Linked DNA regions of Homo sapiens: region 2 is linked to region 1. The links come from fine-mapping of genetic effects on gene expression. Tissue or cell type: whole blood. Region 1 holds a variant in brackets; the other region holds the start of a gene. All regions are shown on one strand. Distances are from middle to middle.

The links. PIP is the estimated chance that this variant, and not a neighbour inherited with it, causes the effect.
Region 2: ZFX starts here. The variant in region 1 is fine-mapped to the expression of ZFX in whole blood (TOPMed, PIP above 0.99). The same link has a PIP of 0.9 or more in T cells, blood mononuclear cells, lung, monocytes and nasal epithelium.

The regions. Positions count from the first base shown.
Region 1 is chrX:24,211,422-24,214,029 of GRCh38, forward strand. ZFX (zinc finger protein X-linked) reads left to right here. Exons shown (of 10, transcript NM_003410.4): 10 at 1-2,608. Among named protein-coding and RNA genes, the nearest start is that of ZFX, 63 kb to the left of the region's middle. The variant T/G (reference allele first, on the strand shown) is at 1,471.
Region 2 is chrX:24,148,199-24,150,902 of GRCh38, forward strand. It overlaps ZFX (zinc finger protein X-linked), which reads left to right and starts at 1,531. Exons shown (of 10, transcript NM_003410.4): 1 at 1,531-1,596. It overlaps ZFX-AS1 (ZFX antisense RNA 1), which reads right to left and starts at 1,456. Exons shown (of 3, transcript NR_046657.1): 1 at 1,357-1,456; 2 at 555-644. RefSeq lists enhancers at 868-967, 1,174-1,987 and silencers at 1,078-1,437, 1,498-1,907, 1,928-1,977, 2,028-2,537.

The DNA.
Region 1 (2,608 bases):
AAAATTCATTTTAAAGCCAATCAGTCTCATTCACATACAATACTGTATATTGATTTATGCTGTGTACAAATAGAATTATTACTTCTAGTTGACTTTTTTTTAAATATACATTTTGCTCAGTAGTGTGTTCTGAATTCTATTCAGTTTGTTTAATAAATAGGGAAAACTGGCAACATGCTAGTTACTTTTAATAAAGTAATCCCTGATTCTATACCGAAGTTTTATATCTTAGAATTTTATATTTATTTAAATATTTACCTTGCTTACCTTGATGGTACTCTTCTAAGACCATTAACTTAAGGTAACTTTATATTGGTAACTCTGAAAGTATTCATGTTGACTCATTTTTTTCCCCATACATTTCTCACAATAAAATTGTCAGAGACATCTACTAATATAAATGGGAGATTTTACAGTCAGGTCTAATTATCATAACATGGAAGTCATTTACTTGTCTTGCTTAATATTTTCAGACCACTTGACAGTGAAAGTTTCCATTTGAGCTGTTGCGTCCCTGGCTTTGCTGAGTAAAGAGCAGTGGCTGGGTTCGTGTTTACTTTTCAAATATACTTCTTTTGGCTTTCTTTGGATTATTTACATCTTTTGTCAGCGTAGCAAACTTTTAGAAAACCTTATTGAAAAACTGTGCTTGCTCATGTTGTATTTTGATTATTCTGTCTGTGCGGCTTCATCTTGGAATGGTTGTGTGCTACAAATGACACTTACTGAGGACTGCATTTTGGAATCTCCTAGAGGTAACTCATGGCTTATAGGATCTTTTGCAACTTTATGTATGTAAATGTACCCTGAATTATATATATACACATATATATCATGTACCTGTGTGTATTGCTTATTTTACATATTTATACACACAACCCCAAGTAGTAGTTGTTTAAAATCTATAATGAAAAGTATTAAATTTACAATAACATGAAAGATCCAGGGATGCATGAGAGAGCATTTTGTAAGTCATGCTCTTCAGAGAGACTACTCAGGTGAAGAATTAGAAGGAAAATAAGGACACTAGTATTTTTAAAGAGTAAAGATATTTTCTTTTAAATATCTTTGGTAATTGAAACATAGAGGTTAAGATGTTTCTAGGTAGAATGTTTTCATACAATTTCACCTCCATGTCTTTATGTTTTTCTGAAAAGCAAATGAGTATCCAGACATGACTCCCACAGTTCTCTTTGAGAAGCCTGAGAGGGAACTCTGTCTTACCTAGTGAGGGGGATGGAAAAGAAGTGATGGCTCTGTGGACCAGAGAACGGGTGCTAATTATGACTTCACACTCGGCAAGTTCAGGCTGATCTGTTATTTCTCAGTTACAGTTAGCAAACTTTAAAAACTTAACACTCAAGTTGGCTTTGATTAAAAGGTAAAGATGTGTTTTAAGTGGATAAGGAAAGTCTGAGGCCTTATTTGGAACATCACTAAGTCTTCCACAGGTTTTTTGTTTGTTTGTTT[T/G]TTTTTGTTGTTTTTTTTTCTTAAGACGGAGTCTTGCTCTGTTGCCCAGGCTGGACTGCAGTGGTGTGATCACTGCAACCTCTGCAGCTCACTGCAACCTCTGCTTCCTGGGTTCAAGCAATTATCTGCCTCAGCCTCTCGAGTAGCTGGGATTACAGGCGCCCACCACCACGCCCGGCTAATTTTTTGTATTTTTAATAGAGATGGGGTTTCACCATCTTGGCCAGGCTGGTCTTGAACCCTGACCTCGTGATCCACCTGCCTCGGCCTTCCATAGTGCTGGGTTTACAGGCGTGAGCCACCGTGCCCAGACACCACATAGGTCTGAATCAGTGTCATACATTCATAAAACAAACTCGGTTAATTAGAACTTGGTTATGTTAAGACGAATCTGGGAGAACAGAAAACAGTTTTTGGGGTCCCTTCAGTTGGCTATTGGTCCGTATGCATCTAGCACATTGTAGGAGATTTAGAAATTGTCTTCCCACCCGATAGCTGCCTTGTCACCTCATTATGGTGCTCCATCCCCTGTGTGCTTAGGTTTTTACCTTTCATCTTTCTCTTTGCCATTGATGTTTGTATTCAAGAGTTATATTTTTAGGGTTAGAAATCAAAATATTTGGTGTTTGGCAAACCTCTGAAGTGCTAGACTGATTTAGTCTAGTTTTAAACCAAGTGCTTTAGGCAGGTGTGAACTCCAGCCCAAATGCCAGTCAAAGTCAAGGCATGGGTTTTCCTAGCCTATCTTATAGGAAATTCCTGTACCTTCTTGGCCCCCATAATGTGTTTTTTTTTTTTTTTTTTTTTTAAACTAACTTACAATTTTGTGATCCGTGATTCATTGCCCTGCGATTCTTGAAAGCTCTGTCTGTTTTTTTGTGAGAACCTTTAAAATCTCCCTTAATTTTTATTTTCCCAGAAATAATGTAAAAACACTTAAATGAAAGTGGAAATGTATTAATTTTAAATCCTATAAAATTAATACAGAAAATATAAATGATTGGGTCATTTAACTATATTTTTTTAAATAAACTGAAAGATAAAGAACACAACACTTCACACATTTTATATTTCTCTTACATACTCCGGAATCATACACAGTTCTTTTTAAAGCACAACATTAAAACCTTTAAAAGGT
Region 2 (2,704 bases), 63 kb before region 1:
AGGAAATTTAATCGCTTGGAAAAATTCAGACTAAAGCCCCGAGAGGAAAATTATCATCCAGTGCATGCTCAGAGATTTCTTCTTACTCTACTTTTGTTTTTCCTTTTTGAAAGCATTTGTGATTGAGAGATGTCTGAGGGAAGGGACAAATTGCATTCTGGGAGTTTTAAAGAGTTATGTCAGGCAACTAAAATACGTGGCCTCTGTATTTAAAGAGATTTCACACCAGTATACTATTTGCTTTATAATTTTTGTGTTTCTTATTGTTTAAAAATGCCTTTAACATTTAGTGCTGTGTTAAAGGATAGCATGCCAGATTCCAGATTAATGTAAAGACTCCACTATTTAACTTTTCCCTAGTAACTTTAAAACAGAGTTTGGGTTCCAAGTTCAGCATGGAAAGATAGCATAAACATTTAAACTAAGTAAAGTGCGAAATACACATTTTTGAAGTTGGTAAGTGCTGTTTAATCATTTTCCCCTTCTCTCCCAAGTCTTTTGAAACTTCAAAAGGCTTGTTTAAGCAGTGTGTTTAAAAAAAAAAAAATCCATACCCAATTGGGCTCCTCTCTATTAAGGAATGTGGAAAATTCATGATTTATGAAACGATGACACCAGTCTTACATTTCACAGGCTCCCAAGCTCTGAAACACGGGTACATAGGAAAATACACAGAAAATTCCTGTTCTTTGCAACGTGCGAAACGTTTCAAAATGCAACTTTGCTCATCTCCCTCCCCCGTACAAACTAATAAAATCAGTTTGGCTCTGACTGCTTATTTTTAAAAAGTAGACGGCCTGGTAGGTGCTCTAGGGATAACCCTTCTCCCCCCACTCCACCCCCCTTCCCGCACACCCATTTAGACTGGCAAGCCCGTTTTCATTTTATTTCAAAGATTTTTTTTTTTTAAGCGAAGGCAGGGGACGGCGGGGGTTGCTAAATTTATCTTCCTCCCCAGCCACGGGGATGAAGAAAACACATTTACTGCGGGCGGGGGTCTGAGGGCCTGCAAACAACTCGAGCTGGAGCCTCGGCCAGGACCGGCGCGAGAGGCGGTAGGTCTCCAGGGAGGCCCCCGGGGGGCGGCCGCGGCCCACGGGACATGGTGGGGGGCGGCCGGGCCGCCTGCCTCTCCGCGGGGTCGGCCGACCGCGGCCCCGCGCGGGCTTTACGGCCGAGGCGGCGGCGGCAGCGGCGCGTGTGTGGCGGCGGCGGGCGGGAGCGCGGAGGAGGTGGAAAGAAGGGGGGCGCTGTCACGGAGACTCCGGCCGCCGGAGACCCCGCCGCAGCGAGGCCACTGGGCTCCCCGGTCGCGGGGCGGGAGCGGCGCCGACACGGGGTGCCAGGAGGACCCACCGGGCGGAGGAGGGGGCCTGTCTACCCTTCCGCATTTTCCTGGGTCTCTCTCCCGGGCGGTGACGTGACGTGCTGACGGCGGGCCCGTGCCGGGGAGCTGGGCCGCTTTTTGTCAGCTCCGAGCTCGGCCCCTCCTCCCTCCCTCCGCCCGCCCCACCAGCCGGAGCCCGGCCCAGTGCTCCAGAGAAAGGCCGGCCTGCAGCACCCGCCACCGTCGCCGGCCGCCCGCACGTCCGTCCGGTGAGTCCCGGGTGCCGCCGCGGCCGCGGGGCCTAGTGCGCGCACAGCGGCCTGGTCTCGGCCTGGTCGGCGGCCCGCAAGGCGCCCTCCCGCGCTAGGCCGGGCGGCGTGGCGCGCGGCGCCGAGCAGGCCCCGAGGAGGCCGCAGTTAGGCCCGGGGAGGAGCCCGGCTGCCCCGAGCGGCGGCGGAGGCGCGCTCCGTAAGCGGGCGGGGGTTGGGGGAGGGTCGCCCGGTTGTGCCGGAGGCGGTCGAGGGGCCCCGGGTCGGCTCCGCGGCCGACCTGGGGCACCGCGCCGGGGTGAGGCCTGGCGAGGAGGCGAAGGCTGCAGGCGTGAGGTGAAGGCCGCAGGCCGGCCGGGCCGATTTTCGCTATGTAAATATCGGTGAGGGGGGGGGAGGGACGGGGGACAAGATGGCGGCGGCTCGGCGCCTGCTGCAGGGGACGATAGAGGGGGTTGCCGGGAGGGGGAGCCGCCATCTTGGAGGCGGTGTCTGGAGAGAAAATTCCGCTACAGCCCGTGAGGGGGGGTGGGAGAGCGGGCGGCGGCGGCAGCGGCGCCGGTGACGGGCCCCGGAGGCCCGGCGCGGCGGCGTGTGCGCGCGGAGGGGCGTGCTCGCTCCCCGTGGCGGCCATTGCCCTTGCCGCCATGATGAGCGCTCGGGCTCCAGGCGCTCGGCGGCAGCGCCACCTTCCTGCCTTGCCTCCCGCAGCCCCGTGACTGGCTGCAGTTTCCGCTGCGTTTCAGCTGAGCTGCCGCAGGCGGCCACCGCCGCCGCCCGGACGCCGGGACCGTTTCACCCTCAGCGCCCCTGGCCCTGCGCCTTCCCCCGCGCCTGTAGCCACCCGAGGGCAGTCGGGGCAGGTGGCATTCCGGACACCTGGGCTTACCAGGGCATACGGGACCCCAGGAAATGTTATTTTTGCTTAAGTCAAATCATATGTGGCTGCTAAGGTGCTTTCGATGCAGTTGTTTTTCCAACAATCTTTGCCGCCCCGAGTATCTGAATAAAGGAAGAAAAATAAAGATTGATGGGAAAGTTTTTGCCATTCTTTTGTCCTATAGGGAAAAAAATTGCACAACACGAGAGCGGAGGAATAAAATTTTGA